Regions from separate parts of the Homo sapiens genome. Here all the other regions are reported to be linked to region 1. The links are microRNA targets in miRTarBase. Many come from high-throughput screens and were not tested one by one. Region 1 holds a microRNA gene; each other region holds the end of a gene's coding sequence.

The links. Region 1 holds the annotated microRNA hsa-miR-3150a-5p (CAACCUCGACGAUCUCCUCAGC, at 1,625-1,646, shown strand). A microRNA usually pairs through its seed, bases 2 to 8, with sites in the 3' UTR of a target mRNA and lowers its output. Matches are read on the target gene's strand: a 7mer-m8 pairs with bases 2 to 8, a 7mer-A1 pairs with bases 2 to 7 and ends in A, and an 8mer does both.
Region 2: the mRNA of EXO5 is a reported target of hsa-miR-3150a-5p. The part of its 3' UTR that is shown has no 7-base or 8-base seed match.
Region 3: the mRNA of ZNF507 is a reported target of hsa-miR-3150a-5p. Seed matches in the 3' UTR shown: 7mer-A1 at 181-187.

What each region holds. Positions count from the first base shown.
Region 1 is chr8:95,071,301-95,074,556 of GRCh38, forward strand. It overlaps MIR3150A (microRNA 3150a), which reads left to right and starts at 1,614; the gene lies at 1,614-1,693. It overlaps MIR3150BHG (MIR3150B host gene), which reads right to left and starts at 1,882. Exons shown (of 2, transcript NR_132986.1): 1 at 1,629-1,882. It overlaps MIR3150B (microRNA 3150b), which reads right to left and starts at 1,696; the gene lies at 1,611-1,696. LOC124901980 (a long non-coding RNA gene) reads right to left here and starts at 953. Exons shown (of 2, transcript XR_007061013.1): 1 at 446-953. It also overlaps a transcript of NDUFAF6 not described here. RefSeq lists a silencer at 2,089-2,188.
Region 2 is chr1:40,514,989-40,518,244 of GRCh38, reverse strand. It overlaps EXO5 (exonuclease 5), which reads right to left. Exons shown (of 4, transcript NM_001346953.2): 4 at 2,207-3,256. The coding sequence ends at 2,579. Among named protein-coding and RNA genes, the nearest start is that of EXO5, 7.8 kb to the right of the region's middle.
Region 3 is chr19:32,382,641-32,385,896 of GRCh38, reverse strand. ZNF507 (zinc finger protein 507) reads right to left here. Exons shown (of 7, transcript NM_001136156.2): 7 at 1-3,180. The coding sequence ends at 2,814. Among named protein-coding and RNA genes, the nearest start is that of DPY19L3-DT, 21 kb to the left of the region's middle.

The sequences.
Region 1 (3,256 bases):
GGCAGGAGAATGGCGTGAACCTGGGAGGTGGAGTTTGCAGTGAGCCGAGATCTCACCACTGCACTCCAGCCTGGGCGATAGAGCGAGACTCCGTCTCCAAAAGAAAAAAAAAAAAAAAAAAAAGCATAAGGCAGACACTACCAGCACTGCACCCTCATTAGCCAGCCAGCTTTGCAGACTCACCACCCCCACAGGCTGTCCTGGAGGTTCCTACGCCTGCAGTGGGAGCTAAGAGGTCAGCTGTTGCCCCAGAGCCGACCCCAGTAACCTTTGCAGCTTCCCTGAGGGCTTCAGGGACCTGCACCCTGTTTAGTGGGCACAGAGAAAATGGCTCATGTCCTGGAAATACCCAGCCTGGCTCCATTGGGCTGTAAGTAGTTCCTGGCAAAATTCCTCATTAGGTAACAATTTGGATGGTGGTGGAGATGTGTCCCTCCTACTTTACCCAAGAGGTGGTAGCGGTGTGGCCTGTGGGAATTTTGAGGGCAGCGGGCAAAAGTCATTCCAGTCCCAGGGCTCAGCTCCAGCAGCGCCCAGGGGCATCTCAGAAGCAGCTACATCATCATCTGTACCACCCCACGCCCTGTGCTTGTTTAGGGCTGAGATCCTATTGGGAGGCATTTGGGGAGGAGGTGAGCTGCGCTGGCAGAAGGTTCAGGGCCGGTCACTGGGGATTTTCCTGCCACTCACATCCCCTTCTTTCAAGTCTTCTTTAACTCTGCACAGATGGGAGTAACAGAAGATGCTGGTTTCCACCTCATCATTTTTTACCTTCTCACCCCCAGAAATTAATCTTCGCATAAACCTCAGGACCAGCACAATGCCTGTCTCAATAAAATGTTAGTTTCCTTTCCTTCTGTATCTCCTGCCTTCCCCTTCCTGGCCACCTAAGACACAGGGCCGTTATGTTGCGGTGCCCTACTTCGCAGCACCCCCAGACCTGCCCAGGGCTGCTCCCCATGCCAGAACCCTCCCTGTCCCCTAAGAACCTGACTATCCTTTGTTTCATTCCCTAAAAGCCTTACTTTTCAAGGCTGAGGCTGCAGCATCCTTTATACTGGTATACACTTTCATGTTTACAAGTGTCATTGGGCATCTACTGGTACTCATCTTAGTTACCCTTGTAACAGAGCCCTTAGATGTCAAACCAAAGCAGTGACTGACACTGAGATTTGTGGCTGCCTGGGTAGGTAGAGAAGAGAGAGAGAGTAGAGTTGACCATGTTTCTCAGCTCACAAGTTCCTATGATGGCTTGGAACCCTGACCAGCATTTTCTTCTGAAGCAACACCCTCGTGGTATGTTCAGCCTTTTTCTAGATCTCTCCAAGACAGAGAAATACTTGTTGCTCCTGCATTGAGGTTGGGCAGATGGGCATTACTGGGGCACTAGTGGCCAAGTTGCCCTGATCCACCCACCTGAGACCAGGTATGTGTGTGGTGGTGCAAGCCACTGCTTTTTCAGGCTGGTGCTGCTGGATGAGAAAGTCCCAAAGTTCTATCATTGAAGGAGCAGCACAAGAGTGAGGACAAATACCTTCACAGGCAGCAAGAAAGTGGTACACAGCAGGGAGGGCAGTGGGCACCTGGGGGAAGAGCAAGGCCCGAGGAGTGAGGGGAAGCAGGCCAACCTCGACGATCTCCTCAGCACCTGAACGCCAAGGCTGGGGAGATCCTCGAGGTTGGCCTGCTTTCCCTCCTTTTCTTACAACTTCTGGAGAAGCGTCAGCCCTCTGCAGGGAGGCGGCCAAGCTGGCAGGCGAGTCGGCGAGGGTGTCATTGCTTATATGGCTGCGGGGACCGAAGCTAGGAATAGACGCGCTGAGGGCTAGGAGGGCTCCGACCGGACGGAAGGATGCCGCATCGCGGGTCGCTGCCCGGAGCTGTGCGAGTTCGGTGCTCAGCCCCAACGGCGCTTTAGGCGGGTCCCCTAGGTTCTCGCCCTTGCGCGCGCAGCCAGGACAGTGTTTCTGCGCTTCCTGAGGCCAAAGCGGGTCTCCCCGTTTTTTCCTCTGGGGATGCCAAAAGCCACTGGAAAAGACAGGAAGCTGTCGCCCCGTCGCATTCTCAGCAAGATGAGGCCGAGTAGGCAGCGCCACCTCTCCCGAGCGCCCGCGCCCCGCTGCCCCAGCCGGGGAGGGACTGGAGGTGAAGTCGCAGGTGCGCTCCCCAGGGAATATCCGGGCTCGCAGACCACGCGGCACCGCCCCCGCCTCGCCCCGCTGCTCCTCCTCCCCCATTCCAGGTGTCTCCTTTTCCGCTTGCCCCTTAAACGTCCCCCTTCCGCAGGGGTCCTGCGAACCCCATCCACTGCCATGGCTCATTCTAACACCTTCACTGGGTGTCTTTTTGCATAACACTTAAAATAAAAATGGATCTGAATCTGATCCCGGCTTCCAGCTTACAGGACATGTCGAGGACAGAGGCACAAGTGAAAGTCCACCCAAGGAATGCAGTCAGCAAAGCCACGGTGTGGGGAGCTCTCTCCAGAGGGTAGGGGAGAAACCCAAAGAGTAAAAGAGACTTTAAAACCTGCCAACCAATCCCAACCTGATGTCCTAATTTGAATCCTGATTCAAATCAACTGCTTTTAATGGAAACTTAAAACTTTAGTGGAAATTTGAACCTGACTTGATATTTGATATAAGAAACCATAGTTAATTTTTTAAGGCATGATAATGGCATTGTGCTTATTTTTAAAGGATAGAGTCCTTATTTTTAGAAATTCAGACTGAAATATTTATGTCTGGAATTAGCTTCAAAATAACGCAGGGAGAAGTGGGTAAGGGTTGGGATGGAACAAGGTTGGCTATGATTTGATCGTTGTTGAGGCTGGGTAATGAAAACATGGGAGTTCGTTCTAGAATTATTTCTACTCTTGTATATTTTTAAAATTCTCTATAATAAGGTTTTAAAAAGAAGGAGAAAAAAAAATGGATATATTCCAGCTGATTAGTCTCAACGTTTTCAGGGCCACATACAAGTAGGGCCCTGAAAATATGTTAATTATGTGACTTAAGATCACCTGGGAGTCCTTTTCGTTACTGACTTGTGCGACTTGTGTGGCTCGTGTGCTCTCATGCTTAATTGGATTGGTCTTTAATCTGGGGCCAGGGAAGTGTTTGACCTGTGGCTGAGATTTCCACCTCTCTGCACTTCCCTTCCTGAACACCAACCAAAAGTGGCCCTGGGTTTCTAACCACCTGAAGATGACTTTCCATCTCCTCCAATGTCCTATGTCTAAAACTGTACAGCCTTA
Region 2 (3,256 bases), not on the chromosome of region 1:
CGGCCTCCCAAAGTGCTGGGATTACAGGCGTGAGCCACCGCGCCCGGCAAATTTTTTTTTTTTTTTTTAGACAGAGTTTTACTCTGTCGCCCAGGCTGGAGTGCAGTGGTGTGATCTCGGCTCACTGCAACCTCTGCCTTCTGGGTTCAAGCGATTCTCCTGCCTCAGCCTCCCGAGTAGCTTGGATTACAAGTGTGTACCACCATACCCAGCTAATTTTTGTGTTTTTAGTAGAGATAGGGTTTCACCATGTTGGCCAGGCTGGTCTTCAACTCCTGACCTCAGGTGATTCGCCCACCTCAGCCTCCCAAAGTGCTGCGATTACAGGTGAGCCACCACGCCCAGCCCTTTTTCCTGTTCTTAAAACTTCTAGTATAACTAAGATGATGCTATAGAACTTGAGCAAGTTCTTTTCTTGAAGACTATTAGCTTAATACCATTTATCCCATAGGTCCAGTGAATTTAGGTTCATTTAACTCTAAACTTACTAGGGCCTATAATAACATACAGTCCAGGATGTTCAACAAGAAAACTTTAATAGCATAATGATTGAGAGCATAAGCACTGCCGTCAGACATATCTAGCCTGGAGTCTACCACTTTCAAACAGTGGAACCCTGGAAACTTTTTTTTTTTTTTGCAGTTGCATGATCATAGCTCACTGTAACCTTGAATTCTTGGGTTCAAGTGATCCTCCTGCCTCAGCCTGCCAAGTAGCTAGGACTACAGGGATGCACCACCATGCCTGGCTTTTTTTTTTTTTTGAGATGGGGTCTTGCTATGTTGCCCAGGCTGGTCTTGAACTCCTGTCCTCAAGTGATCTTCCTACCTTCCCCTCCCAAAGTACTAAGATTACAGGTGTGAGCTACCACACCCAGCTGAGAAAATTATATAACCCTTCTAGGCCTCAGTTCCCTCACTGGAGATAATGGATACAGATTTAATTATAATGTGCTTAGCACAGTGCCTGGCCATAAGAGTCACTCAGTGAAGAGTCATCATAAGATTCCAGGGTCCATAAGAAGAGTATGTGAAGAAGGGCCTCCAGAGACAACCTACCTTATCTCCTACAGATGTCCAGGATTTACCAGCTCATGTATAACATGGAATCATACTAACAACATTCACCATGTTCTGTTGGCTCTTAATGTTCCAGTTAATACAGAAACTCTACCCCTGCCAATTGCCCTCCCCATGCATTGACTTCTGCAAATTCTCCAGTAGTGTCACAAGCAAGTCCTTATCTTCCAGGTGACGTCCGTATCATCCTTCCTCTAGCTGCTTTGATGATGTTTGTAGTTAAGAGCTCCACTGCCTTCTAAGATGGCTTGGGATTCCTCTCCACTACCTTTACATTTTCCTTTAAATGTTATTTTTCACCTTATAAAAAGGGTATCATGCTGTATGTAATTTTCAGGACTTTTTTCACCAAATGTTGTGCTGCTAATATTCATGCATATTGTTTTATGTCACTGTAGCTCATTTGTTTTGGCTACTGTACATTTTCCACTCTTCTGCTGATGGGCACCTGGGTAGCTTCTAGGCTTCTGCTATTGTGAAAGTGCTACAAAGTATATTCATGTTCACATTTTCTATTGCACATGTAGGTTTCTTCCAGCATATACCCAGGAGTGCTACTGCTGGATTGCAATATGTGAATGTTACATGTTACTTCATGTATTATTTTTCTTTTTTTTTTTTTTTTAAGACAGAGTCTCACTCTGTTGCCCAGGCTGGAGTGCAGTGGCATGATCTCAGCTCACTGTAACCTCTGCCTCTCAGGTTCAAGCTATTCTCCTCTCTCAGCCTCCCAAGTAGCTGGGACTACAGGCGCACGCCACCACCCCAGGCTAATTTTTGTATTTTTAGTAGAGACGGGCTTTCACCGTATTGGTCAGGTTGCTCTTGAACTCCTGAGCTCAGGTGATCCACCCATCTCAGCTTCCCAAAGTGCTGGGATTACAGGCATGTGCCACCGCACCCAGCCATGTATTATGTTTTTCGTATCTAATATTTATGACTTCCTGTTTCTACTTCATCTTCCCTTGTCTCTTTGAGAATATTTATTGTTTATGTTTTGGTCTGCTCATTCTGATTCCAAAATATGTTTATGTATATATTTAAAGGCTTGGAATAACACGTACACAACTATATATGGTGGTCATCTTTGAAGGACTGCAGTTATGAAAAAACCATCAGTTCAACTGTCCTGGACAGCATTTCATTTTATTATGTAACTGTAGAAAGCCTTGATCAAGATAAAAATAGGGATGACTTATCAGAAACTGAAGAATTTTCTTAGGAAAGCAAAGTTTACTGAAGGATACCTTCATTCCAGCCATGATGAGCATCTGTCTTCTCAGGCAATCATGATGAAGCTCCAGGGACAGTATAACCCATCTCTCCCACTCATCCCTGAGCCTTGGTCCTGGACTGAATGTGGTTAGAGGTTGTGGAAATAAAAAAAAGAACCAAAATAAGAACACTCTCCATAAAAGCCAAGCTCAGAGACTGGTCCTCTTTTGCTTAGGTACAACAGGAGCAGGAAGGATCAACATTCTTGAAAGCATACCTTCTATTCATTTGGCTTTTTTGACTTGGGGCGCCAGTGTAGAGCTGAGCACTCCACTGCCCTTTCTCCACTCACAAATGTCTGCATAGGTACACGTCCGGCACTTCCAAGCCTCCTCCACGTCAACTCCCTGGGGCTCTCGGTGGCCCATCCAGTAGGCCATATAATGCTGCACCTTGGCTCTCACCTCCTTCTCTTTGAAGGCTACAATCTCAGTACCCAGCACAGTGGCAGTCTCTTGGTGGATATACTCAATCTTCAAGATATCAATAACTGGGAGGTCTGACAGTGTTAGAGACAAGAAGACAAGTTCCATGAGGTCACCCAAAGACTTCACAGAGAAGCCTCCCTGCTGGGCATGCCTCAGCACTGATGGCCCCAGTGGCTTTTCTAGACACAACTTTGTGTGGTGGATTAGGCTAGCAGGGGTCACTTTTCCTTGTACCATGGCATCAAAGATATATTTGTATAGGCTGACTTGAAAACAGTCTTTCTTCTTCTGAGCTTCCAGAGGGAGCATAGGGCGCCTGCGTGTCTTGAGTTCCGCCAGCTCCAGTTCCCCCTTGGCTGTATAGTGCAGCTCATCAATCACTCCAACAAGAAGTACACCCTCCCCTTCCCCAAACACTGGAAACTCTCTGATGTGCCCTTCTGACTGCAGGGTAGGAATCAGCAAAAGTATGTT
Region 3 (3,256 bases), not on the chromosome of region 1:
CTAATAAGAAGTCAATACCAATAAATAACATGTTATTCTATGAAGGAATTCCTACTGAATTTTTTTTTTGGGGGGGGAGGTAAACAGAGGACCTCATCTGTCACCCCGGTTGGAGTGCAATGGTGCCATCACGGCTCACTGCAAGCCTCTATCTCCCAGGCTCAAGTGATCCTCCCACCTTAACCTCCCAAGTAGCTGGTGCTACAGGCACGTGCCAACTATGCCTGGCTAATTTTTAATTTCTTGTAGAGACAGGGTCTCCCCGTGTTGCCCAGGCTGGTCTTAAACTTCTGGACTCAAGCAGTCCTCCAGCCTTGGCCTTCTAAAGTATTGGGATTACAGGTGTGAGCCACTATGCCCAGGCTACTGATTATTTTAATAGCTATCTCTTCTACAGTTAGAATTGCATAATCTTCATTATTACTTTTAGAAAACTCAATTGTTCTTGGTAGACACATTGTTAACTTAAGGCTTGCCACAAAATGATAATGGGAAGGGAAAGAACCTCCTTGATATATGCTTCCTCCTATCGGCCAGGAGAAAGCTTTTAAGGACAATTCTAAGGCCAGAATCAGATGAAACTTTAAAGGCTTTGAACTTCTGGGTTAGTTTTTTCCCCATGAGGTGGGGAAATTTTAAATCCATGATTCCAGGTGGAAAATTTAAGTAACAATCAATGGAATTAGTTTAAAGAAATAAAGGTAATTTAAAAATTCACATCATTGAAATTTTGGGGATGCTTTTCATTATTATTTTCTAAATATGATATAAAACTAAAGCCAAGGAAATTTTCTAAGACAAAATCCTTCTAAGGTTGTTGATTTTCAGAACAACAGATTTTTATAAAGAAATACTGAGTCATTGTACCAGCAATGAAAAAACTGACTTACAATATGAGTGGCAACAGTATGGGTAATAATAATGAAATCATTTTAAATGTTCTATTTGAATTTGAAATTAAAATGTTTCAATTCCGAAAAAAGGAGAAAATGAATATAAGTCCACATACAGTGGATTTGAGGAATATAGTATATATAAATCCATTTCATATTTTTAAAAACCACGTATCAGAAATGGATTAACTTTCATAAATAAATTAAAGCTACCTAAATAAAAAAGCTGCAAAGTTACAATCATTTATGTTTGTTTAAATATCACCAAAATGAGATTAGAAAGAAAGAAAAAAAAATCAGAAAATGTTGCAAGATGCCTGGCCCCACTTAAATAATTCCTAATAATAATTTTATAAATATTAATCCAATCATACCTGGACTTTAGGAACAGAATACTTCTTAAAACGTGCCTACAGCGTATCCCATTCGAAAACCTTTACAGTGTTCCAAGTTGATCGGTCACAGCCTCATCCAGGTGTTAGAAATCAATATTCAGATATTCGGAAATAGCACCGTGAGGATGGTGCACAGAAGAGCGCACCGACCTTTTCACTTGTAGGCAGAATTTACTTAAACAAAACAATGCATAAATGAGTAATCAGAACTACAAAAACAAAAACACCCTGTTTTCTTCACTCCTTGAAATAATTAAAATACAAAATGTGTAATTAATAAGATTACATCTATTTGATGGTGAGTTTTAATGCTAAAGCACTTTGTGTTGGTTTTCCATATGTCCTATCGCACTCTAACAAAATAGAATTTCCAGATAGGAAGAATCCTATAGACTTGCCAAATGCTATTTGTTATTAAAATTTTTACAAACAACCTGAATTTCTGCTATATTTTAGTCACATTTGGTTATATTCCTCTTCTGCTAAATATAACTAAATTAATATACCCCAGGAAAGAAAAGCTCAACACAGCAGTACTCATTTTCAGGAGCTTTTAAATTTCACCCCTCATCCCCTAAGGGATTTTTGGAAATAGTTCAAACTATTTCCAATGCCGGATGATCAAATGTAAATTTTCATACATTGTTTCTTTCACACACTTTCAGATAACAAGTGTGGTTTCATTTAGCAGAGTATTAGAAGGTCTACGTACTATGGAGAAAGTATGCCAAGTTCTGACAGACACTGAAAAGAACCTCTGAGAACACGGAAGACGATTTAGCATTACTACGAATTGAGATCTGGTTTGAGTCTGGTGAGAATTCACCTGTTTCGTCCTCTGCTCACAAGAAATTCATCGTAAATTTAAGACAATACTTCTTGAATGCCTATTTACAATCTAGCTTTGAATTTAGAGATCTTTCCTTTCTTTTTTAAGGAGTAAAGGAACATGTCCTAGATTGAGTATGATTAATTTCTATCAATTTAGGTATTTCAGTAGATCATTTCAAAGCCCTCTAATTATGTTTCCTTGTTGACTCTGTTGGTGACACTGAAAAAACCCCCTCCCAGAACTGCCTCCCATTTCTCACTGGAGGCCTCACAGTCTGCATTTGACAAGTGAGAAGAAAACTAAGCTCTGCTTAAGACTGTGACCCTTTTATGACTTTTAGAATAGTTCCTGAAAAGCCCTTTCTTAACTCTTGCTGGCATTTCTACACTCTAATAAGCTTTTATTAATAAATACACTCGACACTAAGAAGGGGTGACAGAGGGTTAATACAGGATTACACCTCTACTTCCTCTTTGACCCACTCCCCCTCACTCAAAATATTTAAATATCATTACTGCTTGTCCATTTGGAATTCCTTTTATTACAAGTTTGGTTCCAAAGTCACATCTGTCATTTCCTCAAAAATCACATCAACGACTTCTTCTGTGGCAGGAAGTTGTCTGACAGCGTAAAGGTGAAACTGTGGTGAAGGAATCCTCTTCTACTGCTTTCCTGCTCGAGTCATTATTCCACCTAATTTGTGTTTAGAGCTGTATTGTGGTCCTTATTCAGGATGATGTTTACAATTTCACCCTCGTGCTCTTTCATATGATCCAAGAGGTTTTCTTTGCTGGTTGATTCAAAACCACAAATACAACAGCAGAAGAGTAAAACGCAGTACTCCATGCTAGGAGGGGCCAGACTGGAGATTTTTTCTAAACTATATGAGGTATTACTTGTAGGGCTCAGTTTCTCATTCTCGTTGGTACCCAGAACTTCACTGGGAGTCTGGGACATCAGTTCTGAAGATGACACTGCATTTTCTGAACTTCCAGTGACGGGATCTGCACTCTCTTCACTGCTCTTTAATTGAGTCTTTCCAGGGGATTTCCCCAGAACTCTTAAAAACAAAACAAACACAGCACACCGTGAGGAGGCTACAATGTAGGACTAGTAGATTTAATCCTGGCTTTAAT